Regions from separate parts of the Homo sapiens genome. Here region 2 is linked to region 1. Evidence: fine-mapped expression QTL. A gene starts in region 1. The other region holds a variant in brackets. All regions are shown on one strand. Distances are from middle to middle. Region 1 holds the start of CRACR2A (calcium release activated channel regulator 2A). Region 2 overlaps CRACR2A (calcium release activated channel regulator 2A).

Region 1 (15,473 bases):
TCTGTTCAATCCAAACTCCCAGAAGACCCGAAAACCAAAAAGCTACCGCAGGCCATGGCACCACTGAAAGATCTAGAGGTTCTTCTGCTGAACAATGTGTTATCCCTGATGGTATCTCCCCAATGGCAATTTCTGACCGTGATTCAGATGACACTACCCACAGAAATGAACTTCCAAGAACTCCTCCTCCCTCAATCCCACCGTGTCCTCCTCTGGGGATGGTGGCGCTGCTGCTGTCTTGCTCACAAAACCTGCCTTGGGAAGAAAGCCCCTAAAATTTCAGCCCTGCTCAGGTTAAGAAATAGTAGCTTTAGGCCAGGTGCAGTGGCTCACACCTGTAATCTCAGCACTTTGGGAGGCCAAGGCAGGCAGATCATTTGAGGTCTGGAGTTTGAGACCATCCTGGCCAAGATGGAGAAACCCCGTCTCTACTAAAAATACAAAAATTAGCCAGGCATGGTGGTGCATGCCTGTAATCCCAGCTACTTGGGAGGCTGAGGCAGGAGAATCGCTTGAACCCAGGAGGTGTAGGTAGGTTGCAGTGAGCCAAGATCATGCCATTGCGCTCCAGCCTGGGCAACAAGAACAAAACTTCGTCTCAAAAAATAAAATAAAATAAAATAAAATAAAATAAAATAAAATAAAATAAAGAAAGAAAAGAGAAGAGAAAAGAAAAAAGAAATAGTATCTTTGACAAACCATCTCCTTCCCTACAGAAAAACAAAACCTGGCTGAAGGCAGGAGGTGTCTCTCTGGCCAGTGTCTCTCATCTCCCTCCCGCTGACCTCCCTGACCCCATTCATGTCTTCAGAAGGGCATGGCCCTGTCGAGGGGGTGAAGGGCTGTTCCTGTGCCTCAGGGCCCTGTGCTGTAAATGCTTCCCAGCCTGGGCTGTACTTCTAGGTGCAGCTCAAATCCTACCTCCTCTCTAAAGCCATGAGAAATATACTTTACTTACTTGCCTATAAACACTAACATCATTGGTTATTTTTCATATCATCTCCTGCTATGAGCTAAATTATGTCCCCCCGACAATTCATATGTTGAAGCCCTAACTCTCAATGTGATGGTATTTGGAGGTGAGGACTTTAGGAGGTGATTAGGTTTAGATGAGGTCATGAGGGTGGGGCCCTCATGATGGGATTAGTGCCCATCATGAAGAGACACCAGAGAGCTCTCTCTCTCTCTCTCTCTCCCCATCTCTCTCTCCTCCCTCTTCCCCACCCTTCCTCCACCCTCCCTCTCCCTTCTTCCTCTCCCATTCTCTCCCTCTCTGTGCCATGTGAGGACACAAAAAGAAAGTGGCTTTCTGCAAGCCAAGGAGAGAACCTTCACCCACCAAACTGGCACCATGATGTTAGACTTCCAGCCTCCAGAACTGTGAGAAAATAAATTTCGGTTGTCTGTGATATTTTGTTCTGTCTGCCAGAACAAAGACATCCCCTCAAAGGGAGTATGCATGCCTACTACAGGGACCACCCCTCTCTTCTTAGACCAGACCCCCTGCAGGACCCTTTGCTGGCACAGCAGGGACTTAGCATGCATGGAAGCTAATTAGGTGAGAGACTCTGCTTCTGCCTCCTGGAGAATTTCAATCCAAGACAAGCACAACAAGTTGTGAAGGACCAACAAGGGGAGGAGTACATCTCAACAAGTTGGTTGAGAAGGACCAACAAGGGGAGGAGTACACCCTTAGCATGGAACTCAACCACAAGCTCTCAAAACAGGTAATGTCACCATGACCCATGGGATCACATGTGCGTGGACCACGTGCTTCCTCACATCCCTTAACTCACCTGACATGGATCAACAGGTAACTCCTGTATTCTCACTTGAATGAAGAGAAGAGAAACTCAGGTTTAGAGGCTAATCCCAAAGACATATGACTGGTTAGAGTAGAACCCAGACTCTGCACTAAGCATTCAGAGGCGGCAGGCTGTGGAACGCTTGAGGACTTGGCCCTAGAGCCAGACTGCCTGGGTTCAAATCCCAGCTCGGCCTCTTATCAGCTGTGTGACCCTGGAAAAGTTACTCAGCCTCTTGAAACAGATGAGGAAGATGGCTTCCTCATCTGTAAAATGGGGAGGATGATCATAACAGTGCCTATTTCATAAAACGGTTACAAAGATGAGTTCATTTATGCCAAACTCTCAGCCATGCCCAGTGTGTTTCTGTGCATCAACCTTGAGGTGCAGTGGAAAGAGAGTCCCTGGAGTTCCGTCTTTGGTCAAGGTGGGGCTGCAGGAAGCTGGCCTCCCTCCCGCATCAGCACCAATCCAACCCTCTATCCCAGTGGGTGAAGGTATGTGGTTATGTGCAGCGGACAATGTGGCAAAGCTGCATCCATTTACCAAGAGAACTCTGATGGACTACAAATCCTGGACCTCAATGCTGAGCAATCTCTAAAGTAAACAAAGTGAAAATAAACCAATCACCCAGGTAATAGAAGATTTTCCTCTTGTCTGCACTGGTAATTGGGTCATGGTAGCCAACCTCCCACGTCCCCTGGTGCTGCTGTGAGTTTAAAAGAGAGTAAAGGAAGCTGTCTGGCCAGAAACACGAGTGCAGGTTCCGGGAGGAGGGCAGCCACACCCGCTGGTTCCAGCTTGTCCTGGTGCACCTGTAGCACGTGTGCTACGTCTCACCCTTCTCACCTTTCCTCTAACTAAGCCCAGAAGGGCACAGAGCTCCACAGGCTCAGGGGTGCACCCAGAAGGGCACAGAGTTCCACAGGCTCAGGGGTACACCCAGAAGGGCACAGAGCTCCACAGGCTCAGGGGTGCACCCAGAAGGGCACAGAGTTCCACAGGCTCAGGGGTACACCCAGAAGGGCACAGAGTTCCACAGGCTCAGGGGTGCACCCAGAAGGGCACAGAGTTCCACAGGCTCAGGGGTACACTACGAGCACAGGACTGGGTGTTAAGCCTATCCAACCTCACTGCTGGGACTTGCTTGGGTAAAACACGGTTTCCACTTTCCCACAAGTTCTCAGGCCCAGCCTCACATTTTTCCACCCCCAGGCAGGGCAGCTCTATTGTGTGAATAAGGGATCTTCAGCACAGATGGGGTGGGGACAGAGGCCCTTGGAATCTGAACCACAGGGGAAGCTTGCCTGCTCCTACCTCCATGCATCTTCTAGAAACACCTGGAGCATCACCCAGAGTCAGACTCCACCCACCATAGAGCCTGCTGCCCCATAAATGCCTCCCTTGGCCAGCCCCATCCAGGATGTGTCAACAAACAGACAAGGGAAGAAAGTGTCCCGCTGGCATTCCGAGAAAGCCAGGGCTGGGAGCCAAAACACACCGACAAGGGGGATGCTCTGTCTCCTGAAGAATCTGTCACAAAAGAAAATTCTATAGCCCTCAAGCTGGAAGAGGCCCTGGAGATAACTTTGTCATCACAGGGTGGCACCCTCTAGTTGCCCCAGGCAGATGAGGTCCTAGAGGAACCCGTCCCTAATATTGAACTTCAAGAGGTCCTTCCTGTATCTAACTCAGCCTTCAGAGAAAGGGCAGAGCAGTTACAAGGCAAGGATGACTGAGAACTCCAACACCTGAGGCCAAGACTCAGCACTGTGTACAAGGTGTGGAGCCTGTAGAGGACAAACCTGACTGAGGGTTGTCCTCCCCCTCACCTCAGCCTGACTGCAAATTTGTTTATGTCATCCGGATGACGTCATGCTAACTTGACCAGTTGGAGCAGCTGTGAGGGAAAACAGACCCCAAAGGTCCCTCTCCTGAGTCCTGTGAGGGGAAGGGGGTGTCTTTGTGTGGATGCTGTTGGTGAGTAGAGAGCCAATGGAGCATAACGCTTACAGTGCAGGCTCTGAAATAGCCAAGCTGCCTGAGTTCAAATCCTGCCTCTACCGTGTATCGGCTGTGTGACCATAGACATGATACTGTGCCTCTCTCTTCCTCAGTTAACTTTTCTATAAAATGGGCATGATGGCAGTGCCTAGCCAATTGGGTTGTAGTGAGGCTTCCATAAGGGAATACATGGACAGCCCTTGGGCCATGCCTGGCACTTTCTTTGCATTGCTCTTGTGAAGGTGACCAGTTTGCCTGGAACATCCTGGCTATGCTTGTGGTCCCAGCATTGCTATGAATATTCCCCCTTTCACTCCCGGCAGTGCCCGAGGTTGGATGATGTATTATAAGAGTGACTCCCTTTGGCTTCTTCATGTCCACCTGGTTATCTCCCTGCTTCATGCTGCCTCTGAGTACTGGGGAGCCAGGTTCCCAAAATATAGGTCCCCAAAGTAGGTTCTGCCCATGCCACTGAGCTGTCTGCTCCACAAACTCAGCTCTTCCTCTTTTCCTTCTTCTCTGCACTTTGTCTCTTCTCCTTCCTTGATCCTTACAGCCATCCTCTCCTTTCCTGCTTCCCTGTCCGTGCCTTAGGATTCTGCTGGTGCACACAGGTACCGTCTGGCTTTATTGGGACTTCCCCCTGACCCTGTACTTGGACGGAACCCTTTATGGCTCTAACTAAACTGTGCCTTATCAAATTTCTCTCAGAGGAAAGGAAGCGATTTGAAAAGGCAAAGAAATGACCAATAGATGGATGAGTGGAACAATGTGCTGGTTTTTGTTGTTGTTGTTGTTGCTGTTTCTTTGTGTGTGTGTGTGTGTGTGTGTGTGTGTGTGTGTGTGTGTGTGTGTTGTGTTGGTAGGAACAAAAAGTGTACCAGTTTGAAATGGTCCATTGAATGCTAGACCTGTCTATAGAACTGTCCCCAGGGCTATTTTTTTTATTTTTTATTTTTATTTTTTGAGACGGAGTATCGCTCTTGTCACTCAGGCTGGAGTGCAATGGCGCAATCTCAGCTCACTGCAAACACCGCCTCCCGGGTTCAACCAATTCTCCTGCTTGGCCTCCTGAATAGCTGGGATTACAGGTGCCTGCCACCAAGCCCAGCTAATTTCTGTATTTTTAGTAGAAATGAGGTTTTGCCACGTTGGCCAGGCTGGTCTCGAACTTCTGACCTCAGGTGATCCACCCGCCTCAGCTTCCAAAGTGCTGGGATTACAGGTGTGAGCCACCAAGCCTGGCCCCCAGGGCTATTTTACAGGAAACCCTGGAGGCTCCTCTGCAAGACAGCGGCCTCCATGTGTGTCAGTGCAGAAAGCAAAACCTCTGGAGCCCAAGGGCCTGGACCCATTTCTGCCACTCACTAACAGCTGACAAAGGACCATGATTTCGCAAAGACTCAGTTTCTCCATCCGTAAAATAGGGCAGACTTGTCTCTAGAACACCGTGATTCTATGACATTGTAAGAGGCCGTGGACCTGCTCTTAAGATCCTGAATTCTGCAATATTCTGCAATATTTGGCAATTACATCTTTTAGCTCTTCTCTAGGGGAAACATACGAGGGAAACAGGGCCTTGGAAAATATAAAATCTGAACTAATTCTCACCTAAGGTATCATGGCAAGTGCCTGAGTCCTCTGTGCATTGCAACAAAATAGACACTATTTTGTGTGGAAGAAAAGCAAGAGAGAGATGTGAACTCAGTGGGTGATTAGCCTGTCCCTGAGGAATCCCTCACTAGCTCTCCCCTAGCTTCTCTCAGCTGCATTGCCAGTACCCAGGCAGCCTGCAGATTCAACCCTCCCTCCCCACAACAGGTTCAGCAAACCATTGCAACAAGGAGCCCCAAGGCAGAATGGATGGCTACTGCGGCCACTGCCCCAGTGCTGGGGCCTGCCTTCTGCAGGCTCACCACAGCGTGACGCATCTCCAATCACCCCCCACACCTGGGGTTCCATCTCTGTCAGTGGCATCACCAGCCACTCTAACTCTGGAATCCAAATCGCCATCATCTTGGTCTCTTCTGCTCTGGTCCCTGACATTTATTCAGTTACCAGATTGCATCTACTCCATTGTTCTCTGGGTTAAAATCCCCATCCCACCACTTATTTTCTGTATGACCTTGGATAAACCACCTAACCTCTCTCTCAGTTTCCTCCTCTACAATATGGAACAATCATAGCAATCTCCTCATGAGGTTGTCAGGAGGATTAAATGAGATTAAACATGAAAATCTCCTACCACAGGCCCTGGCACATGGCAGATGACTTTTCCCCTACCCCCAAGCCTTTTAGCCCCTTCCTGTCCATTCCCACCAGCCCTGTTCAACCCCTCATGGTGACTGCAATGGGCTTCTTCCCAGGTTCTCTTCCCACAGCTTCCTCCACTGCAGTACATCCCATACCCAGGTGCAGATGACATGTTCTTCTGAACCCAGCTCCAGGAACAACACTTCCCTTCTTAGAAACCATCAAAATATCCCTAGGCTTAATAATGAAGTTTCTAGACTCGTAACACTCCAAGCCTCTGCCATCTCTCCCAGGCAGCACTCCTCACCGGATTGTCCACTACATTACTCCTTGCTCCTCAGGTACAACCCACCTTCACGGCTTTGCTCAGCCGTCCTTCCCCAAGATGCCCAGACCCAGCCTCCTATTCAAGGCCCGGCCTCAGTGCCACATCCAGGACGCCCTCTGCGAGTCACTCCTTCCAGAAGTAACCTCCCTCCTCCAAACTCCCTCTACACACTTTATAGTATAGAACCGAGAGGTGACAGGACCTCGGAAGCCGTACCTGAAGCCTCTCACTTATAGAACCGAGAGGTGACAGGACCTCGGAAGCCATACCTGAAGCCTCTCACTTATCACTTAAAAACTGCGCATGAAGTAGCTCTTATGGGCAAATACTAAACCATGAGGTTGTACATATTCATTTCACCTGAAAAGGGGCATGAACTCTGGACCCTTCAACAAAAATGCTGATTCCACGTGGAGCAAACTGCTCTGATTTCATATCCCTATGCCCACATCCTTGATAAAAAGACTCTTCGGTACATGCTGCTTTCTTCCAGAGACAAGGAACCCATCACCTCATGAGTTAGGTTCTTCCTCCTGACCCTCTGACCACCCTGGGGACTCCCACGGATTGGCTCTTTCTGTCCTCTTGAGTCACACAGAACGAATTCCTTTGAGACTCCTGGTGTCCTCCACAGAGCCAAACAGGGCAGGTTCCTAAGCACACTGTGTAAACAGATAAATGAACTCAGAGGGCTTTCCCACGTGGCAGGGTACATTCGCTGCATCCCGTGCATGCATGGGTGCACAGACACACACTCGCACACACACGGACACACACACACACACACGGACACACACACACAGACACACACACACACGGACACACACACACACGGACAGAGTCAGCACAACGCCTCTGAGCCACACAGCCAGGCCAGCACACGCGGGGGCCAGGGCGGAAGCCAAGCCCCAGCAGCCGCCCACTTCCTGACCTCCTTCCTTTGCTCTGGGAGGTTCTCTCTCTGTGTCTTTCTGACTGTCTGTCTCGGTTCTTTGTTTCTCGGCATGGCAACAGTTGTGGATGCTGCCTGCGTGGCCAGGGCTCCTAGTAGCACTGACCTGCAAGGTAGGAGTTTTGGTTCTTAGACTTGAGACCTTGGGCAAGTCACTTTACCATTCTGAGCCTCAGTTTCCTCATCTGTGAAATGAAGAGGCTGGATGAGGCTGGAGGGTTCCTAAGGTCCTTTCCTGACCAAAACCCTAGTGCTTCTCGGCTCTCCTCCAGTCCCGTTACCGAGTGACAGGGAGGGGAGCAAGGGCCAGGCCAGGCCTGGGGGTGGCAGGGGAGCCAGCTGTTCCCCCCCAAGGGCACACAGCCTCCATCCAGGCCCTCTGCGAGTTCCATGTGCGGCAGACACGCGCTCACACTTCGCAGCCGGAGGAGCAGGCAGGAAGCGCCGCCCCCCGGCCGCCCCGGCCGCCCACCCTCAACCTTCCTCCACGTTACCTTGGGCGTGTAGGCTTCCCGTGGACCTGCCCGCGCCGCCCGCTCGGCTCTCAGCTGTCAAGCAGCCGCCTGCTCCGCCCGACTCTTTCCGCTCCGAGCCGCGCGGGCTGGACCAGCCCCTCAGCGGAGCTGAACGGGAAGCGGCGCCCCCTGGACGCCCTCCGGGACGTGCGCGCGCCAAGCGGTGGGGTCCGGGCCTGCAGGCGCGACCTGAGGCCGCCAGGGAGGCTGGGTGGCGAGGGCGGGGCGGCTGCCGACTTAGCCGGCCTGACTGGTCGGGCTTCCGGGGTCCCGCTGCTCCCTAGGCCCCTTGCCCCGATTCAGGCTCCCAAGGTGGGGCATCAGTCCGGCCCTCGCTGGCTCACTGGAGAGGTGGTGTCTGGGAGTGCACCCCCGAAAACCCGGCAGCAGCCCGGCGTCACTCCGGCTGTTACCTCTGGGAGCAGAAACTAAAGGGGATCCTTATTCTTTATACTTTTCTGACTCTTCTATATATTCTACTGTGGGCATGAATCGTTAAAAACAAAACAAAACACCAAAAACCCAATACGTATTTGTTAATAAAGCACTGAGTAAATCTTCAAAGGCCTCCCGAGGTGCTCCGGCTGCAGGATAACCCCTCAGCTTAGCGCACAAGGCAAGGCCCACCCTGCCCTCTCCGGCCACAACCTAATTTTCCAGCCTCACCCTCTCTCCCTCACACACACACAACACTTTCGCTCTGGACACACTAGCTGTTGCCAAACACCAGCTGTTCTTCATGGCTGCTGGGAGTTCTTCTTTTTGCCTGGAACACCCTCCCCTTTCATCTCTGCCTGTTGAAATCCTACTCATCCATCCAGGCCCCTCTGAAATGTCACCTTTTTGGAGAACCCTTCCCCAGACACTGCCCCTGCAGAGTGCCCCAGTTCTTTCCTGGCAAGCCCATCTTTCTGGTACTGGTTTATGTAGTAGCATCCCCCTCTCACACGCGCTAAGTCCTATTCCAAGGTGGAGAGAAACAAATTAGCACTTACTGAGCAGCTGTTATAAATTACTCTGTGGAGTCCTTTCTTCTCCTTGCAGCCCAGCCAGCCACTAGCCCACAACCTCCCTCCACCCTGCCAGAGTTTCAGAAGGCTGTCAGGGGCTCTGAGGCCTGCCCTCTGGTGTGTCCCTACTGCGTGCCTTGGCTTTTCTGGCTCTGTCCTGGGTATGCTTCCCTGTGTCAACTCCCAAGGTCTGCAAGCTGGTGGCTTGACCTTCTCTCAGCCTTATGTGAGGAAAGAAGGACATTTCATTATCAGAATCTGAGAAGTGGAAGGGGCCTCAGAGATTATCCAGTGTAAAGCCTGCCCACCCATTTTACAGAGCAGAAAACTGTGACCAGAGAGATAAGGTCAGAGGCATCGGAGGTACCTACCATTGTTATTGTTGTTTTTAATAGTGTTAATACTTGCACGTTTAGATCGCCTTTCACTTCTAAATCAATGCGTTGTCATTCATTTGCCCCTTACAGTCTCAGAGGTATTACAGTGGTTAGTGCACAGACTCTGGAGGCCAAAGCCCTGGGTTTGAATCTCAGTGCTCCAACTTGCCAGCTACGTCCTTGGCAAGTTACTGGAACTTTCTCCATCAGTACAATGTGGATAGTAACAGCTCCTGCATCATGGGGTGTTCTATGAATCGAAATAAATGTGTATCTTTAAAGGGCTTAGAATAGTAGTAGGTTCATTAAAAATGCCAAATGTATTTGCTCTTATCAAATTTTTGTTATTGTTAATTGTATCACTTCACAGTTGGAATAACAGAGGCTCAGAAAGGCTGAGACTCATCCAAAAAATTGCTGCTTTGAGGATGGTTTCTCACCAAACTCCATGCAGTCATCTTTGTCTCTGATGCCATTCTGCTTCCTGTTCCCTTGTGTCTGAGTCTAACCACCTATTTAATAGGGAAGAAAAGCAACTGTCCTTTAGCCCACCTCAGAACACCTAGACATTTCATGTTGCAAACATTAACCACATCTTCTGGCTTCTATGGGGATGTCTCTAATTTGCTGGCGTTTTCTTTAACAGAACACCACGCCTCATGGTGCCCTTCAGAATCACAGAGCCATCACATTAACTGCTGCAAGTTCAGCTTGTACATTCGTGCCTCTTTTACTCTTGGCCCGTGGCAGAAAAGCGACAGGGAAAAGATGGTTCTTCCAATGTATGGATGTAGGAAACTGAGGCACAGTTGATACTCACTGATTGGCCCCAGGCTATGGAGCTAGCCTGGACCATGGGAAGGATGAGGATCTCCACCTCCTCTTTCCCCATGATTACATGATTCAGTGTTGCAGGAGAAACCCAAACTCGTTTATTCAATGAGGATTTATTGAGCTCTCTCTAGGTGACGAATAAGACCGAGGCAAGGCTGGCTTCCTGGGCATATGACCTATGAAGTCACATAGGCCAGAGGTCCCCAACCTTTTTGGAACCAGGAACCTGTTTCGTGGAAGACAATTTTTCCATGGACCAGGGGTGGGAGTGGGGGGTGGGAATGGTTTCAGGATAAAACTGTTCCACCTCAGATCATCAGGCATTAGTTAGATTCTCATAAGGAGTGTGCAAACTAGATCCCTCACATGCACAGTTCTCAATAGGGTTCACGGACCAGTACCCCATTACCGGTTTGTGGCCTGGGGTTGGGGACCCCTGACATAGGCCACTCACTTAGAAGGGCTTCATACAGAGTTTAATGCTGTCCTGCCACCTTCTTGAAATCTTAACAATTTTTGAACAAGGGGCCATATAAGTTGTATTTTACACTGGACCATTCAAGTTGTACAGCTGGTCTGGACCTAGGCTCTTCCCTAGGAGCTCTGTTTCACAGGGAATCAGCCAGGGAGTTGACAACTGCAGTTCAGTACGATGGGGGTTGTGACAGAAGCAGGGTAGCCGTGAAAGAAGAACAGGACCTTGGCCAGTATTCAGCTCACTTGGGTCATCCTCCCCAGCTGTGCAACCTGCCCAGCTGCCAATGACTTACCACTGTGCTCCTTGGTGGGAGGATGGCCTTGGTTTAGCACCAGGGCCTGTAGCCCCAGACAGCAGCTGCAAACCCTGCCACCCTAAGAGGCCACTGCTAGGTCATGTCAACACCAGGAAATGTGTGTCATTGGAGCCCTAAGCTGTTCTCATGTCCTCCAACCCAGGACTCATGTCCCTGATCTCATGTCCCCGATCACCAGACTGCCAGTGGACTCTACTTTCTGCTGCCTGCCCAGACCCAGTCAACTTCCAGAAAAGGGCACATAAAGTGATCCACACTGAAAAGCAATTGGCAGACAAAACCTAATGGGCTATTCATCCAAAGGAAACTTGGGTTTTATTAGGGGTATCTGGTGTCCTCCTGGCCTGCATTCTGACATATAATAAGCATCTAAGTCATGACAATTGAGTGAACATACAAAAGGTAAATACATATGGCAAAGCCTAGAATTGGAATTGGCAGTTTGAAGGCCATTGGCCCAAGAACAGGGTATTTTCGGTTGTGTTCTCTTTTCTTTCTTTTTTTTGGATGAGTGCTGGAAGCCCCAACACAATTGTTTGGGAATAAATGGAAGTGAGGAATGGAGAAGTAAGGAGGTACCACTCTCAAGGAGGCTGTCAGTAGAGGGGACAAAGAGTGTGAGAGAGGAACAGAAGAACCAAGCAGGAGACTGGAAGAGGTTTGTAGACTGAGGTTAAGAATCTGATGAAGAGAGAAAGGATGAAGAGTGAGGAGGGGTCAATGGCCCTGGTATAAGAAGAGGCAGGAAGGACTGGCGAGGACAAGGGCTTAGGAGGAGCCCAGAAGTCTCAGAAGCAGGGGGAGGAGGTAAAGATGAGTGAGGATGGGAGCAAGGTGGTGGGAGGAAAGTGGATGCAGAGCTCCCAGATCATAGTCCCTGTTTCATCTATGAACCAAGAAAATAGGTAATGGCTGGAGGGTCTGGGCTGATTGGTGGGGTAAGTAACATTTAGATGCTTGTGCTGTGAGTTGCTGCCTCCTCTGGGGTGGGGCAGGGAAGAGCCAGTGTCAGGGGTCGGGGGAGTAGAAAATTGGCTTGAAGGGCACAGGGACACTTCCAATGAGGCGTGCTACCCTCTTCCAGAGTCACCTTGATGCTCTATGGCATCCTTCCTCCTGTCATCTGTAACTTCTTTGTTTTTTCTTGTTCACTTGCTGCTTTCAACTCTAACTTAAGCCCAGTTCCTATTATTGGTCCCCTTAGAGGAACAATGAAAACATTCACTGTTCTAATACAGGAATCCCTCTATTGTTCCTTCTTCCTTATTGTGAATGGCAACAATTACAGAGTTTCCAACAGGTGGAGGCCAAAAACCAAACAGATTTTTCAATGTTGACTTTCTCAGGCTGCATACAGAAGGGCAGCATCTGCCCCACCTCCCAGAGCTTCGCCAGCAAAGGCCAAATCAAACAGCGGCCCAGAGCAGAGGGCTGGCCAGCTCTACAGAGCCAGCAAACACCAGAGGGAAATCACCCTGGATCCATATCTTCTAACCTTTGCCTCTGTGAGCATGTTTGGGAAGGAGACATCTATGAGATTGCAGGAGCCAATTCAGGCTACATGCTTATAGCTGCAATTGAAAAATTAGGCTAGAATGCAGGGCCTCCCTGAAGATATTTCTGAAAATCATGTACTTCCTTTAAGGGATTTACAAATCTGGAGTCCTTCCAAAACAGGACAAGTAAGACATGAGCAGTGACTTTCTACTCTCCATCCAGCAGCCAACAATAGACTTCGTCATTCAGATGGAGCTGCAGAGGTACAGACCTGAGAGAGCTGGAAGTCATAGAGCCAATCCCATGTATTACTGACGAGGTAACTATGGCTCAGGGTGACTTGACCTGTAAGCCACAAGCTTGTGGGTGACCACTCCAGGCCCTGAATGGAGGATTTCACTCCATCCCCCTGCCCCACAAGTGGCCTCTGAGAGACAGAGTACCTGATGCCACCTTATGTGGGATATTGTTTTTGCTGTCACGAATTTCTGAATCCCCTCTTTGTGGAATAGAGAAATCAAAGCCACCATACGTTCAAGGGTATCCACTAAAGAAGCCACATGGTTACTTCAGCTAAAAATAAATTAAAGACCTAACAATGAATTATCATTTATCTAATCATCTGGGAATGATGAAATTAATGTTTCGTATCTACTATTTTACAGTTATAAATTGCTTAGAAAGTATAGATATTTTTCCCTCATAATTCTGCTTTCCCATGAGTGCACATGCATACACACAAGACCCAACCACAGTATCTTGACCGTGAATATAATAAATAAGGAAATAACAAATGTAGTAAGGTGAAGGAGGGGGTTCTGTCAGCCCAAGAATGTTCTAGGCCTAGTGTTTGGTGGAGCCAACCAGCTCCTACAAGCCAGCGAAAACAAAGAAAAGTGCCTGGCCATTTCATTACAGAGTGCTTCCCAATAATCTAATTCCTCCACCATCAAAATTTGGTCAGGGAACATCACCATTTTTAGAGAGATGCTTTGTTTTGATAAAACAACCCTTCTGTATTAGTCTCTTCTCATGCTGCTGATCAAGACTTACCTGAGACTGGGTAATTTATAAACGAAAAGAGGTTTAGTGGACTCACAGTTCCATGTGGCTGGGGAGGCCTCACAATCATGGTGGAGGGCAAAAGGCACGTCTTATATGGTGGCAGACAAGAGAGAGCTTGGGCAGGGAAACTCCCCTTTATCAAACCATCAAATCTCGTGAGACTTATTCACTATCACAAGAACAGCACAGGAAAGACCCACCCCTATGATTCAATTACCTCCCACCAGGTCCCTCCCATGACAAATGGGAATTGTGGGAGCTACAATTCAAGAGGAGATTTGAGTGGGGACACAGCCAAACTATATCACCTTCTAAGCTTATGTCTCACTATTCACCCACAAATAGGCTGTAAAGAGCCCAGCATTTGCTTTCTAGCAATGGTGTCATACCAGCTTTGCTTTCCCTGCCTGCAGGGCCCTCCATGCATCTCTGTTTAAAGTCTAAAGCCAGATCCAGCTTTCATGCTGCCTACTGCAGAAAGACACCTCTGGTGTTTCTCAACCAGAGGAGCCTCCCCACCTCTCAATTCCGGACCACTTCTCTTAAAAACATGACCAATGATGCCAAAAGTCTAATTTATGTGTAGAGTTGGTGTTGCAGAGTAGAAGGGGATTGAGAGGTTGAGACTAAATAACTACTCAGCTTTGAACATGTCAGGAAGTTTATCTGTTCTTCGGCTTCCTAATCTGTAAAATGTAGTTAGGGACAGGATCTACCTGATGAGGTTGTTGTGAGACGTAAATGAAATAATTCACATAAAAAGCAACTAGTACAGTGCCTGGTACATAGTCAAGGCTTACAGTGTCAGGAAAGGAAAAAGGAAGGGAGGGAGGGAGGGAGGAAGGAGAGGAAGAGGGAAAAGCAAAGCAAAGAGAATGACACCAGCCTAGGCAACACAGTGACACCCCATCTCTACAAAAAATTATAAATTAAAAAAAAATTAGCCAGGCATGGTGGCTGATATGGTTTGGATTTGTGTCCCCACCCAAATCTCATGTCGAATTGTAATCCCTAATGTTGGAGGAGGAGCCTGGTGGGAGGTGACTGGATCATGGGGAAGGATTTTCCCCCTTGCTATTCTCATGATAGTGAGTGAGTTCTCACAAGATCTGGTTGTTTAAAAGTTGATATGGTTTGGCTGTGTGCCCACTCAAATCTCAACTTGAACTGTATCTCCCAGAATTCCCACGTGTTATGGGAGGGACCCAGGGGGAGGTAGTTGAATCATGGGGGCCAGTGTTTCTTGTGCTATTATCATGATAGTAAGTCTCACAAGATCTGATGGGTTTATCAGGAGTTTCTGCTTTTGCTTCTCTCTCATTCTCTCCTGCCACACTATGTAAGAAGTGCCTTTCCCCCCCCACCATGATTCTGAGGCCTCCCTAGCCATGTGGAACTGTAAGTCCAATTAAACCTCTTTCTTTCCCCAGTCTCGGGTATGTCTTATCAGCAGCATGAAAAGGGACTAATGAAACGTGTATAGCACTTCCCTTTTTGCTCTCTTCCTCAAGCTCCAGCCATGTAGGATGTGCCTGTTCCACCTTCACCTTCTGCCATGATTGTAAATTTCCTGAGGTCTCCCCAGACATGCTTCCTGGAACCATGAGCCAACTAAATCTCTTTTCTTTATAAATTACCCAGTCTCAGGTAGTTCTTTATAACCATGTGAGAATGGACTAATACAGTGGCACACACCTGTAGTGAGCTATGATAACGCCACTGCACTCCAACCTAGGCAACAGAGCAAGACCCTGTCTCTGAAAAGAAAGAAAGAAAAGAAAAAGAGAGAGAGAGAAAGAAAGAAAGAAAGAGAGAGAGAGAGATAGAAAGGAGGGAGGGAGGGAGGGGGAGGGGAGGGGAGGGAAAAGAAAAGAAAAGAAGCAAGCAAGAAGAGAAGGAAGAAGGAAGGAAGGAGGGAAAAAATATCCTCCTCTCTCTACTGAAGTCAAAAGCACCATTGCCTCTTCTTAGATGAAATACATATATGACCTCCTTGGAGGCACAATTTTATGTAACAATGACACCAAAGATCATGGAAA
Region 2 (15,473 bases), 25 kb before region 1:
CTCTGCTTTGCATTGACCTGTGGCGTGCTGAGTGAATTCTCCTCCTGACCTGGTCCCAGCCTCCCTACCCCGAGCTTTTTGGAAGAGAGCCTGTGTTATTCCCACTTCCAATCCTCGCTCAAGAGCCTCTTACATTTTAATCTAACCAGAGTATTTTAGAGCCAAAACTGACTTCTTAGAGAAGAAAATCTCACCCACTCCCACCCAGGTGAAACGCCAACATTATTTTTGATCAGAAGGGATAAAGAAAGATTTGCCAGTATCAACTGTGTCATTCTAAAGCAAGACAAAGTCGAATCATGGTGGGCAGAGCTGCTTTCCAACACAACCCCATGCAGGATGCAGAACTCACTTTATTACCCGCCTGTGGCTCAGCCACTTGTTGAATTATTATGGATTTTTAGTCTCTTCCCTCACCCACTCAGCAGAGTGGTTGACTGGCCAGCACTTTCTAGTGCTCATGAGAATGCCTGAGTTTTAAATAAGCAGCACGCACCAGCACAGCAAAGCTGCTTTCTCAACAATGATTACATGCAGAATTCCAAAGCCAAACAAATTCACCTAGCGGCTCTATTCAGCTAACATTTACAGAGTGACTCCTAGTAAAAGATGCTGTGTTAGGAACGGGGTAAAAAGCAAGTGAGGCCAGCCATGATGACTCACACCTGTAATCCCAGCACTTTGGGAGGCTGAGGCAAGAGGGTCGCTTGAGCCCAGGAATTTGAGACCAGCCTGGGCAACATAGCAAGACCCCGTCTCTACAAAAAAAAAAAAGAAAGAAAGAAAAGAAAGAAAGAAGGAAAGAAAGAAAAAGAGAGAGAGAGCAAAAGAAAAAACTAGCCAAGTGCAGTGGTACATGCCTGTAGTCCTAGCTACTTGGGAGGCTCTCTTGAACCTAGGAGTTTGAGGTTGCAGTAAGTGAGCCATGATCACACCACTGTACTCCAGTCTGGGCAACAGAGTCTCAATCATGTCTCAAAAAAAAAAAAAAAAAGTGAGTGAAACGTTATTCTTCTCCTCAAATAGCTTATAGTCTAGTGGAGATAAATGCATGTGAAAAACTAAAATGTAAGGCAGAATGAGAAAAGGGCAATAAGAAAAGACATGTACACTGAAAAAAGACTAGAAGGAAATGTACCACAATATCAATGGTGGTTATCTTGTTTATTGGGTTTATGGGTGATTTTTATGATGTTCTTTAGTATTTCCTATATTCTCTGTGTTTATGTTAACCCCCAGGGCTGTGGGGAGGGGAAGGGAGATGGAAGACGTCCAGCACGTGTTTGGAAAAATGTGAGTAGGGAACAGGGTGCACTGGCACAAGGACAGAGTAAGAGATAGGACAGGAGGGCTAGAAAGCCTTGAATGTCATGCCAAATTGACTCAGTTGCTCACTGTCAGTGTTTCAATGGCCTTTTGTGATTGTTGCTGATGCATCACCCATCACACTGGATTAGACTTGTGTACATGTCTACCCCCATACATTTTTAGCTCCCTGAAGTCAGGGATCATGGCTTATTCATTCTGTAACCATACTACCCAGCACAATGACTAGCACATAACAGGAGTCAACAAAATCTTCTTGGATGTGTTGGATTCTAACAGGGTTATTCCTTATTTTGCAGGTTATAAGGAGTCATCAAGGGTTCCAGGACCTGACATATTTTAGGGAGTTCATATGGAATATATACCAGGCACTATGCTGGGAGCCTTAATTGTCTTAATTGACCCTACCTATAACCCTCATTGTCCACATTCATTTACACATGAGGTTCAGAAAGTTTAGGTAACCCACCTAAGGTCATACAGTCTGAAGACAGTGTGGGTGCTAAAGTCAAACAGAAAGAAGTAAGGAGACTAGACCCATGAGAGGCCGTGGGGACCTGGAATGGCACAGCCACTCGAGAACGAAGTGTGGAGCGAGGCTGGCATCTGGGAGGCCGTATGGAGGTAGCACTTACAGCTGAGGGGTGATGAACTCCGTGGCTCCTGCATCAGGCACATTTATCATTTCTGATGTCAGCACAGGACACACAGTACCAACAGGGACTCATCCTTGCCTTATTAGAATAGCTACCAGAAGTAGGATTTGTGCAAACAGCCCCTAACCATGCTGTGAATAGTCCCCCTCCACTCTCTCATCCACTGGCTTTTTCATGAAATTCCTAGACCCAGACACTTTCATGAAAATGTTGATACAACTGGCTCTGACTACAAATGTAAATCAATTTCCCTAGCCTAAACAAAAACAGAATTGGGAATCAGAAATGCTTTCTCATCCCATCTCAGTCACTGACTAAATAGGTACTCTTCATCTATTTCCTTACCCTCTCTGAGCCTCAGTTTCCTTATCTGTGGATTGATTGGGCTGGACAAGATGATCTTTAAGATCCTTCAGACTACATCCAAAACTGTATGTTCTCAGGAACTTTGTACTCCTCCTTAGCATTTATGACCATTGTAACTAAACAATTCCTGGTGTAACTAGTGAACATCTATTACTCCTGCTGGACTGCGAGCTCCTTGAGCCCGGGGACTATCTGTCTTGTTCCCAGTAATACTTGCAGCCTTGACTAGAGTGCTGAGCATGGAGTAGCATGCCATGTCTGCAGCACAGACACATGGCTGCTCCCTTTCTCTGGGTTGGAGCTATGTGTGGACCGCAACCAGCCTTAGGCCTTCTCACCATGATAGGGCTTCTCTAATGGTGCTTGCTCTCTGGAGGACACTGTTTCTCTCCATGGTTCAGGTGGCCAGTTAGTGTCAGATTTATCCACCCTTCCAGCCAACCCTGGAAAACTCTTTTGGATTTTCTAATAAATAAGAGGAGGTCAGTGGTGGGGGGTTTGGAAACTGTGTGTGTTTGCATTCAAAATACCCTACTGCTCAACTGGAAACGTTTTCACACGTCTCTGACTCAGTGGCACAGAGAGATGCCTAGGGATGCCCCTAGGTGTCCCTAGGGGCAGCTCAGTGCCCCAGTGAGACTTAGCAACTCCAGCCATGGTCCTCCATCCTGCTCCCTAACCTCAGCCCCACATCTCACGTTAAGAGGCCAGGCCTTTCTCTCTCAAGCCCATAGTAGGCAAGGATGCTGGGGTTCTTGTAGGCAGGAGGATGCCTGGAATGACCTCCACCAGGGCCTCTTATCCAGGGGATCCCAAAGCTGCTCCTTGGAGCCAACAGCTGCATTTTGGCCTGTGCTTACCATTCTGCAGTCTCTCTCTCAACATTAAATCAGTAGCCACTGACATTACAGTGTCAGTCATATGACGGTGTCCATAGAAGGAAGAGATCTCCTTCCTTTAAAGATGTTTATTTCCAGAAAATGAAATGAAGGCACTCCTATGCCCTTCCTTCGTTTCTAGGACAATGGGTAACGTCAAATCCCCAATAGAGCTGGCAATCAAAGACTAAGAATAATCATGCATCAGTTGTTCCCATCTGTTTCCTCCTGTCTCCTTCCAATCCAGGCCCCCAGCACCCGGCCCTAGTGCTCAGTGCATCACAGTCCCTAGATTCTTCTTGTCAGGCGGCGTTTAATTGCTTTTCTCTACCCTTAAGGCCGTATTATACTCAGGGTGAGCTCTCTGCTCCCAGAGTATTGGCCCTTTCTGAGTTCACTGTTCAAAACAACACCTGGGAAATGCACGCACAAGATCCAGAAATGAGATTGGTGTGTTCTTGCACAAGCCCTCTCACACCCTCTAGGCTCCTGCTGAGCCAGCCAGAGAAGTCAGCGAGGACTCTGCTTTCATGGGCATTGTTAATGAAAGTTTCACTTGCTTAAGTTTGCAGAAAGTAGGGCATGGATCTGCGCTTCATCATGCAGTGCCCCGCGAGACGCCTCCCCAAGATAGCTGGCTGGTTATTAACTAAGCACAGCTGGCATTGTGTGTGCTCTGAGGCTGGCTGCTCTCATTCCAGCTTGGTGGTCTAAGCATAGGAGAAAATGGTCCCTTAGGAGAAGCTTGTCAGAAGTGATGTGACTTAGTTTAGATATCTGCAGGTAGGACTGACTTCTAAGACATTGGCAGGGCCATCCAATGATGTCAGCAATATCACCCAGACCGTCTGGGGCTGCAAAACAAATAGCTTTGCTGGGATTCATAAAGCCACCATCGTAAAGTGGAACTGCTGGTGTTGGGGAGGGGTGGAGTGCACCCTGGAGGGAGTGACCCTTACATTGATGGACAACAGAACACTAAGTGTTCAGACATCCGACCTCACCCTTCACTGGTTCCCACTGCTATGGAATGGAGTGTGAACTCGCTTCCTGGGCTGCTTGGGCTCTTTTGGTCTAAGGAGGCGCAGCAAGCACTATTTTCCAAAATAGGACAGGAGAGAATGGAGAAGAAGAATGGAGAGGAATTCATCTTTCCTAGAAAAAGGAAATATTCTCTGGTTGGTTCTCCACAGAATCAGTGCCCGCTCCCCCTGGACAGTCGCTGTCCTATAATAGTGGTCCTGCCTCCCATTTTCCCTCCAGCCAGGCCTCCCTGCTTTCACTCACTTTGCTTCCATATGAGAAAGGCTCTCCCACATCTCTTCCATCTCACCAAATCTCCTCCACCCGTTAGGCAGGGTTTTAATCTATAAGGGTTGCCAATGAATTATCAAAAACCAGGTGTCTTAAAACAACAGATTTCTTCTCTCACAGTTCTGGAGGCCAGAAGTCCTAAATCAAGGTGACTGCGGCGCTGTGTCCCCTCTAAAGGCTCCTGCAGAGAATCTGCTCCTTGCTTCTTCCGGCTCTGGTACCTCCAGGTGTTCCTTGGCTTGAGGCTATATCACTCCAGCTCTGCCTCTGTCCTCATTTGGCCTTCTTCTCTCTATGTCCCTCCTCTGTGTGTCTCTTTATGAAGACACTTGCCACTGAATTCAGGGCCCACCCAGATAACCCAGGATGATCTCATCTAAAGATCCCTCACTTCATTACATCTGCAAAGACTCTTTTTTCCAAATAAGGTCATATTCACCAGTTCTGGCAGTTAGGACATGGGCCTATCTTTTTACCATTCGCCCCTCTGCAGGCACTGATTCTCAACCCTCAGAGTACATCAGATCCTCTGGGGAGATTTTTAAACACTCCAGATGCGTGGGCCTCACTCCAGAAATTTGTTTTCACATGATCCTGGATGGGAAATTAAATAAGTATTTTCTTTTCTTCAATTCCCCAGTTTCTCAAGCGCAGCCAGGATGGTGGGGCAGGGGCAAGGAGCACCACATCTCCCGGACAGTACTTCATTGAAGAAGACATTGTAAAGAATCCCAGCTTTCACTGATCACTTTCTCCTCCAGGATTTTTTTTTTTCTGACTGAGTCATGAATCAGGCTGTCATCCATTGTTTTGTAAATGTTGCACAAAGAATGTCAGAGACCTTGGAGATCATTTAACCCAGTGGTGCTCCACCCTATCCAATCAATGCCCTATTTTTGTAACAAATATTTAGAAACACCATCTTTACCACCTGAAATACAATTCCTAGAAAAGTCGGTCGACCCAAACGCATAAAGTAGCCCTAATTTTAATAAAAGGATAAAAAGGAAATGTGATTAATATATATAAATACATACTATATGTATATTTTATATATATACGTATATACACAGAGAGAGAGAGAGCGAGCACACACTTGGCATGTCATCTTGTGCAGGAGCCATGCTAATCTTCTTTGTATCATTCCAATTTTAGTATACGTGCTGCCAAAGTGAGCACAGAAATGTGATTCTTAATAAAATAATATGTCTGTCAATATGTACGTGCTCATGCATGCCTGCACTGGAACACATAATGAAGTAGTCAACACTTCCACCTACCTATAATGGTTAAGTTTAGATTTAACAGAAGACAAATAGAAGCCACTTCATATAAGAAGTACAAGGAAATAAAAGATCAGAGGGATATAGGAGGACAATAGAATAAAGAAGTGTTACAATGAGTTACCCCCCTTTCCTGGCCGTATATGATAACAGGAAGAAGGAAATAACCTTCACTGAGGTACAGATAACAAGCCAAATCAAATTACAAATGTGCAAGCAGAGGAAACAAGGAAGCACAGGATCCTGTCTCGTGAGCTCAGTCTTACGTATAAGTGTAGCGTCATGATAATTTATTACGCTGTGATATGGGGCAGGATAGTGACAAAGTGTCACAGAAAACATGTTTCCAGTCTGGAAATCCCACCCACTGTGTTGAGGCATATATTCGGTCTTTAGCAGTAAAGAAAAAAAAAAGAAAGAAAAGAAAGAAAGAAAAAAAAAAGTGGCTGGGCGTGGTGGCTCACACTTGCAATCCCAGCACTTTGGGAGGCCAATGCGGGTGGATCACAAGGTCAAGAGATTGAGACCATCCTGGCCAACATGGTGAAACCCCGTCTCTACTAAAAATACAAAAATTAGCCGGGCGTGGTGGCACACCCTGTAGTCCCAGCTACTCGGGAGGCTAAGGTGGGAGAATTCCTTGAACCCGGGAGGCAGAGGTTGCAGTGACCTGAGATCGCACCACTGCACTCCAGCCTGGCAACAGAGTGAGACTCTGTCTCAAAAAAAAAAAAAAAAAAAAGCTTTTAAAATGACATCCTTATAGTATGGGCGGTGAGAAGAAGAGGATGGATTGGGAAAAGTTGTTGGGTAAATCTTGAAGGAGAATATCAGAGTAAGAAGGAAGAACAAAAGGCAACCCCAAAGAAGTAACCATGATAGCTAATTTTTGCAAGAGATTTCTTATCATTGTACTACAAATATAAATATATGTGATAAGAATATTATTTTTAAAACAGCTTTTATAAACAAGTTTGAGGCGCCTCTGCTAATTTAAACTAGTATCTAATTCTACATCGGCTGGATGAAGTCTCAGATTTCCTGTTACAGACCTGCGCATGGGTTCCTTGCTTTGCGGTCACTGCATATTGTACTGTGCCCTTTTCAGTTCAGTGTATATTTGGAAATGCTCTGATCTAGACAGAATGCATGAAGCAGGGAGATCATCTCGTCATTTCGAGGTTTTGTCTTTATTCCATTTAGGCTTCTCTTCCTAAAACAACCATTTCCTAAATACCGGGCTTTTGGCTTAACTTCTTTGAAAGTGTGAGAGGCATTACTCTAGGGGACAGCCTGACCCCATTAGAAACACTCGCCAAACAAGGGCTGAAAAACTACCTATTGCATACTATGTTCGTTATTTGGGTGATGGGTTAATTAGAACCCCAAACCTCGGCATTATGCAATATCTCCATGTAACAGACTTGCAGGTGTACCTCCTGAATCTAAAAAAAAAATAAAATAAAATAAGGAATACTGATCAAGTGTAACCTCATTCATTTCTGTAATGAGGAAACAGGCCCAAGAGGGTAGGCCAACTGTAAATTTTGCTCTCCTTCCTGTCACTAAGTTCCTTGAGGGCAAGGAGGGTATGGGATACTTCTTTTGTATCTGCACACAGCTGCCAGCACAGAGCAGCACACATACCTGTCTGTGGCCCTAGACGTGCCTGCTGTCTGTATTCCATCAGGACTCTGGAGTCTCCTTTTCAACCTGAAAACCACTCGTTTCTAATTACTCATCCATAGGAAACACAGGCAACGGATCCCCAGAAGTCACTTGGGACTGAGTTTCAACACTTTTGTTTCACACAGTTTCAGCACTCACACCAGCTGCAGCTGAAGACCATAGCACTTCAATGAAAAGCAACTGACTCCCTCCCCAACCCCTCTGCCCGTAGGCTGCTGTGGTTAGCACTGCACTCAGAGAAAGAATAAATAAAAAGCAAAAGCCCCAGTTGTTCTAAGATAACCACAGAGATGACAGATGCTGTTGCATGCAAACTTGCGGGAGAAGAGAGATAAACAGCACATTACAAATCCAACAAAGCATGGTGACGAGAAGCCTTGGCGGGCAAGTCCCGTTGCTGAGGTGTGACTTCAGAGATCAAGTGGAATGTGCCCTCTTGGTCCCATCCTCCCCTCACCCCTGCACTCTTCCTCTTTCAGCTGGCTGGGTTTAGAATTTCTTCAGTAGGGAAGAGGATTTTGCCCCGCTGGAAGAATGCTAACTCTCAGGATGAGTGATACTTTGGGAGACCCCCAGCCCCCAGCTTACAGGATAAACAAATGGCCAGGAATGAGAAAAGCTGAGGTGGAGCAGCAAAGGGAGGGAGGGTTCCTTTGGCCCACCTTTCAACCCCGAGTGGCCTCCAGAGAGCTGCCAGTTGTGGTCATGTTCATCCTGGGCTGCGGGCAGAAGGATGGCTCAATACCTTAGCTCATAGCCACCACTTCTGGGTCCCACTTCCTTCCTTCATCAAGTAGTGTAAAATGACGAGGACCCAAGACAGCTGGAAGCCACTCGCCTTGTTGTCCATGGTTGCTCCATGGCGTATTTGTCTCTTTTGTCACATTCTGGACACAACCCAACGCATCCATGTCACCAATACCACATGTAGCTGGTGGCACTGCAGCTTTCTGTTGACCTGCCTGAACTAGCCTCCAGGCACCAGGCTTGTCACTCACACCGAGCGCAGTGCCTGGCATTCAGAAGGTGCTCAATACATGTTCTTGGATTGAAAGAGCAAAAGGGCAGGGGAGCCAATTCCACTCTATGAAATGGGAAAAGCTGTCAAGGAACAGCCGTCAC[G/A]TTAGTTATGAGACCACAGACGCATTGTCACCCACCTTTTTTGCAGTATGTAGCCATCTGGCCCATTTTCAGAGCTGCTCTTATCTTTGTCACGACTATCATCTCCACAGCATCAGTAATGACAGACTTAGAAGGTGAGAGGCTTAACTGTAAACCACTCCTTATTTAAAAAGACTTTGGGGCCGGGTAAGCTGGCTCATGCATGTAATTCCAGCACTTTGGGAGGACGAGGCAGGCAGGTCATGAGGTCAAGAGATCAAGACCATCCTGGCCAATATAGTGAAACCCCATCTGTACTAAAAATACAAAAGTTAGCTGGATGTGGTGGTGTGCACCTGTAGTCGCAGCTACTTGGGAGGCTGAGGCAGAAGAATCACCTGAACCCGGGAGGCAGAGGTTGCAGTGAGCCAAGATTGCATCACTGCATTCCAGCCTGGGTGACAGAGCGAGACTCTGTCTCAAGAAAAAACAAAAAGACTTTGGGAGCAGCATGATAGATTGGCTAAAATGTCAGGTTCTAGTGACAGAAAAACCTGGGTTCTGATCCTAGTTCTTCTGTGTGCGAGTTATGAGTCTTGGTGAAGCCACTTCACTCTGCTACTGTTTCCTTGTCTGGAAAAGTGAGCTAGTGCTACCACTGCCTTGGGGGGTCTGCTGAGAGAATCCATGTAATGGAGCAACACTTCTGACTGTCTTGTATTTCATTTTTATTGCTGGTCTCCATGCAATTACTCAGATAGTGCACAAAAGCAAGAAGAGAGCAGAGTTCTTTCCCTTCCACTTTTCAGCTCCCGAGATGAAAGCCTGGACATGGCAAGGCAGGGGCTGCAATCTCAAGCATACAGAAGATTAACAGAAATGGGCCGAGTGGGCAGGGGCCGATGAAGAAGAATCGCTTTCATATTAAGTCTGCCCTCCTCCCTCTGCTGGAAAAAGACAGCCTCCTTGGTTTTCAGTTTCCCCCTTGAAGAGACATGAGTACATGAGTGATTTCCCTTCCTCCTTAATACTCTATGAGAGAAACAGCACAATGTTGCTAGATGGCAGTCAACGCTCAGGCTGAACGCAAGAGGGTCAGCAAGAGGTGGTGGGGAAGATGCCAGAGCGGGGCAGGGAGGTCTCTTTAAAAGGACAGCTGCTACCCAACCCAACCAGTTGTCCACATACTAGAACTGAGTGTTTCCAGTTCTGTTGATTATTCAAAGATTTTTCAGAATTTTTAAATGTTACACACGTTCAGGGTCAACATGAAATGGCAGGTTTATTCCGTGCAGTGTTTCTTGTAATATTAACAGCAAATGACTAAAAACAACCTGTGTTCATCAGTAGGGGATTGCTAAATTATGGTAAATCCATACAATGGGATACTATGCCCCTGTAAAAAAAGAATGAGGAAGCTCTCCACATACTGAGAGGGAAAGATCACCAAGATAAATCGAGTGAAAAAGGCAAGGTTAAAAATAGTGTGTAGAGTCTGTTATAATTATGTAAGAAGTAGAGGGATGAGGCAGATATATATTTGTACTGACTTTTATCTGCAAAAAGAAATCCTGGAAGGTTGTATAGGAAACTAATAAAAGTGGTTACAAGGGAGGGGCAGGGCAGGACTGGCCAATGGAGGCAGGGATAAGATTTCGCCGAATACCTTTCTATAGCGCTTTAATTTTTGAACCACACAAATGTATTGCTTATTTGAAAAATAATACAAAAACACTGTATACACCAGCTACTGGGAAGAAAACACATCTACAGGCTACGAACAGCCTGCAGGCTTCTGGGTTGCACCTTCACATTAAGGGCTCCAAAACTGGAGAGGCAGAAAAGTTGGCAGCATTGGATCCAAGCTTTACTAGGTGTGGAGACAAGTAGGTTGTTCAGTATCTGGTGTCTGGAACTCTCTCTGGATTGCCTGGCAATGAGCTAGTTGGGCCCAGCAGCCTCCGCCACCTCCAGGGGGAAAGTGATGCACTCCCAGCCTCTCTGGAAGAGACTGCTCCAAAACTCAACTTCCCGGGAAACTGAGGAGCTCCAGGGTCACCAGGTGCTGGGCAGACAGAATTTCCTGCCATTCCTCGATAGTTAAGGCTGCCTGGAACCCCAGTGGTGTGTTCCCCCCATCAAGGCTCTGTCCCACTTGTCCCATACAAAGGAGAGCGATAGGTGAGTGCAGTTCCTCCTCTGGAGCACAGCATCCAATGTGTCCAGCTGGGCCCCAGCTCAGCACACCTCTCTAGTGAATGCTGAGAACAGAGGACATGCTCCCCTGCTGACACTGCTGCCAGTCACTTTCAGGCAGCACCATGGAACACCATTCATATTCACCCCGGCCCTTTGTATGTCCCTAGTCTTGTCACTGTGAATGAGCTCACTTAGTGTGGCAGCTTGAACTGTGATCTCCACATTGAAGTCCTAACCCCTAGTACCTCAGAATGTGACCTTCTTTGGAAACGGGGTTGCTGAAGATGTAATGAGTTAAGATGAGGTCATACTGGAGTAGGGCGGTTCCTAATATGGCTGGTGTCCTTATAAAAATGGGAAAATTTGGAAACACACACACACAGGGAGAATGCCATGTGATGATAAAGGCAGGGATTGGAGTGACGCAGCTGCAAGCCAAGGAAGACCACAGTCGGCCGGCAAATCGTCAGAAGCCAGGGCGAGGCAAGGAGGGGCCTCCTATACACCACAGAGGGGTCAGGCCCTGCTGATACCTTGGTTGCAGACCTCTCGCCTCTAGAACTGGGAGACCTGACATTTCTGTTAATCACCCAGTTGGTGGCACTTTGTTAAGGCAGCCCTAGGAAACTCATACACTCAGCAACCTCAGGCCAACTCGGGTGGCAAAAGTACCCGCCATTGCTCCTTCTCAGCAGGTGCCCAACAGATACTGGTGACAACACTGCTCCTATGAATGAAGATCCCAGGACCTGGCCCGGTCAAGTGTATTGTGTCGGAATGCATCAAATAGTCAACCAATAAACAATGGCTGAGTACCCGACCTTGTGAAGAATGCAAAAGACATAAAATATTCCATTACTACCCTCAAGGAGTTGACAATCTGATTGAAGATTCAAGAAAGACATGTGTAATAATGGCCAAATTAGTATTATCTTCCCCCAGCCCTCACCCACGACCAGCAGATGCCACAGAAGTCACTCTTAACTAAATTGCACTGTGCTCCCAGCTGGATTCAACCTTCTACTGCATCTCATTTCGCTGCTCCCTGCATGTGTCTGGAAGAACCGCTTTTCCAGCTCTCCAGGACATTCTTTAGGATGTCAGGCTACTAGACAATTTCTAGAAGCTGTCGCCACTGCTCCTGGCATGGAGCCCACACTTCTTGCCCACTGCGGACACCCACTCCTGGCCAGAATTGTCTGCCACCCCTGGTGAAGCCGCTCCCATCAGTTTCTTATGAGCGCTTTTGTCCCAGTCAGAGAAGCAGACCCTGTGGGATGTTGAGCCTATTCTGCAGCAATCAATGAATCTGACAAGCAAAAAACATGAGATCCAGGTGGTTTGAGAGTCCACTTTGCTAAGCTGACAGTTTTCAAGCCAGGGGCAGGCTACAGAAAATCAGAGACCCTCAGGAGAAATGCTGTTTTCTTATCCTCATTCAGAACATTTGTTTGTTTGGCCCAGCCTTCTCACAGGCGGCTGCTCCCAGTACCCCCTGAATCCAGGAACTCCGATTCTTACCATCAGCAAGACTCCTGTGCAGCCACACACCTGGCAGGAGAGGAGGCAGCACACCTGTGTTGAATTCTCCTGGCACTCCTGCTGAATCCCAGCGCTCTGGATCCGGCTCCTGCAGGGTTTTTCTTGTGCTAAGTGCCCAGTGGAGGCTCTGGCTGGGCTCATGGAGGAAGAGTGGCAAGTTGCTGCTGCCCCACCCTTGACAAACAGCCCAATGGCCCCAGGTGGCTCCGTGCCAGCCTCCTGAAGGGCAGCTGTGGTCAGGGCATGACCTGTGGGTAGAACAGAGAGAGGAAAGGGTTCCTCACTTTGACTTCAAGCAATTCATTTTAGATTATCTGGGTTGGGCTTTGAGGCAGACACTGTGGCTTGCTGAAGCAGCATCCATTTATCCTTTCCTCCTTTCTAGCAGAACTCCATTTCTGTTCACTCAGGACAGTGACCTCCTCCCCAGCTCAGAGGCCTCATCCAGCCAAAACAATGCAAGCTTCTTGCCAATGGGTAGGTTGGGGTGGACTCTACTCCGTCTCTGGTTGTTAAGACGTGAGAGGAGCCCTGCTAGGGGTGCTCGGAGAAGTGTTTTCCTGGCTCTTTTCCTCTGCTGGATGCTGTGCCATCTGATGTGTTGACTGCAACTTCTGCAGCCACTTTGTGACCATGAGGAGGAAGCCTGAGGCAGAACAGAAGGACTGAATCCGGGCCCTTGATGACATCGTTGACCACTGGATCAGACAACACCAATGTCACCCTTCCTCCAGACTTCTTATTACACATGCGATAAATATCCTTGTTTAAATCCATCGAGTTGTGGGTTTTTGCTACTCATAGCTAAGATTATCTGAGGTGATGTGCACTGAGATGTTCCTGAGACCACAAGACCACATTCTAGAATCCAATCCCACTATCCTAACCACAACATTCCCAAATTTTCAGGACACACACACACACACACACACACACACACACACACACACTTTTCTCTCCACCTTTTCTTGGTATTCAGTCCTTTTCCTAGACTGGACACATTTTGCCTTATTTTTTTTTTTTTTTGAGATGGAGTCTCGCTCTGTCGCCCAGGCTGGAGTGCAGTGGCATGATCTTGGCTCACTGCAAGCTCTGCCTCTCGGGTTCACGCCATTCTCCTGCCTCAGCCTCCTGAGTAGCTGGGACTACAGGCGCCCGCCACCACACCCGGCTAATTTTTTTTAAAAAATATTTTTAGTAGAGACGGGGTTTCACCATGTTAGCCAGGATGGTCTCTATCTCCTGACCTCGTGATCTGCCCGCCTCAGCCTCCCAAAGTGCTGGGATTACAGGTATGAGCCACCCCACCCGGCCTGTATTTTCAATAAATTCTGCAACATATGCCAATTCCATCATTTAATTAAGAAACATTTTTTACCCCCACTGATGTACCAGACACTTTGCTGGGCTCCCGGGACTCAAAACTGAAGTCAGGGACTAAACCCTGAAAATGGCATGGAAGTTCCTCAAAAAACTAAAAATAGAACTAGCATATGATCCAACAATCCCACTTCTAGGTATATGTCCGAAGGAAACACGATCAGTAGCTCAAAGTCATCTCCGCACTCCCGTGTTCACAGCAGCAGTATTCACAATCACCAAGACATGGAAACAACCTAAGTGTCCATCAACAGACGAATGGATAAAGAAACTGTGAGGTGTGTGTATGTGTGTGTGTGTGTGTGTGTGTGCATATACATAATAGAATATAATTTATCCATAAAAAGAAGAAAACCCTACCATTTGCGACAGCAGGGGTGAACCTCGAACCTTGAGGGCATTATGCTAAGTGAGGTAAGCCAGACAGAGAAAGGCAAATTTATGATGTCACTTATATGAGGAATCCAAAACAATTGAACTCAGAGAAACAGAGGGCAGAACGGTGGTTGCAAGGGGCTGTAGGTGGCGAGAGAGGGGAAATGTTGGTCCAAGGGTACAAAATTGCAGTTACAATGTGGATAAGCGGGTAAGTTCTAGAGATCTAATGTACAGCATGATGACTTAATACTGTATTGTATACTTGAAATTTGCTAAGAGGGTAGATTTTAAATGCTCCTACCACATACACAAAAATGGTAACTAGGTGGGGTGATGAATGTATTAACTAACTTTATAAAAAAAATTTTCTCTTTGAATTCTATGTTAACCAACTTGATTGGGCTATCATTTCATAATATACACATATATATCAAATCATCAGGTTGTACACCTTAAATTTATAGAATTTTATCTTTCAGTTACACCTCAATAAAGCTGGAAGAAAATGAAGCCCTGCGGAGATAGAGCAAGTGAGCCCAACTCCTGGAAAAGAGGTGAGTGCAGGGAGGCAAATCCTAGGACAGGGTGCACGCAAGCCTGTGTGGGCACAAAGAAGGGTGCGGGGAGACCTGGCGCTGGGAGAGTGTTAGCAAAATGCTCCTCAGAAAAGAAATGAATTCTTGAAGGGAGACAAGAAAACTGCAAGCAATAGAGGCAGGCAGACATTCACAACTGAGTAAGTAAATAGTAATAAAATAACAACCAACAATGGTGGCAACTAACAGTTCCTGACACAATGACCCAGGCAGTGTTTGAAAGTTTTCTGGGTACTAACCCATTTAATCCTCCTCCAAAGCCTGTAAGGTAGTTCAAGGATTAGCCCCATTTTATGGATCAGTAAACTGAGGCATGGAGAGGTTAAGTGATACAGGAAGTGGGTAGCAGAGGCAGGACTTGGACCCAGGCCGTGGAGCTCCGAGGCTCACATGCTTTATAGGCTACACTGGTGGTTCTCACAGTGGCCGTCAGGAGAGAAGCCCCCGCAGCCCCTGGAAACTTGTTACCAATTCAGATCTTGGGCCTCATCTCAGACCCACAGAGTTAGAACCTCCGCAGGTGAGGCCCAGCATGCCACGTTTTCACAGCAGGCCTTCCTTGTGATTCTGATATTTGAGAACCCTGCTTGACACTATAAGCCTGTACTGAGAAGGGATGGCATGCTCAGAGGACCATGAATGCTGCAAAGAGAAGCAAAAGCCAGAGGGCAAGACAAGTAAGCTGTGAAGAAGCCCATCAGGAGGGTGGGCTTTACTGTATGGGCATGAGGGAGAAAGGTATGGGGTGAGGCAGGGAGGTGGCTT

Evidence for each region. PIP is the estimated chance that this variant, and not a neighbour inherited with it, causes the effect.
Region 2: its variant is fine-mapped to the expression of CRACR2A in whole blood (INTERVAL, PIP above 0.99).

What each region holds. Positions count from the first base shown.
Region 1 is chr12:3,745,179-3,760,651 of GRCh38, forward strand. CRACR2A (calcium release activated channel regulator 2A) reads right to left here and starts at 7,931. Exons shown (of 20, transcript NM_001144958.2): 1 at 7,837-7,931. It overlaps LOC107984495 (a long non-coding RNA gene), which reads left to right and starts at 11,385. Exons shown (of 2, transcript XR_001748964.2): 1 at 11,385-11,530; 2 at 12,518-12,987. RefSeq lists a silencer at 7,666-8,165.
Region 2 is chr12:3,720,609-3,736,081 of GRCh38, forward strand. It overlaps CRACR2A (calcium release activated channel regulator 2A), which reads right to left. Exons shown (of 20, transcript NM_001144958.2): 2 at 12,334-12,602. It also overlaps the pseudogene RNU6-174P. Among named protein-coding and RNA genes, the nearest start is that of CRACR2A, 25 kb to the right of the region's middle. RefSeq lists a silencer at 8,229-8,328 and an enhancer at 12,628-13,256. The variant G/A (reference allele first, on the strand shown) is at 8,635.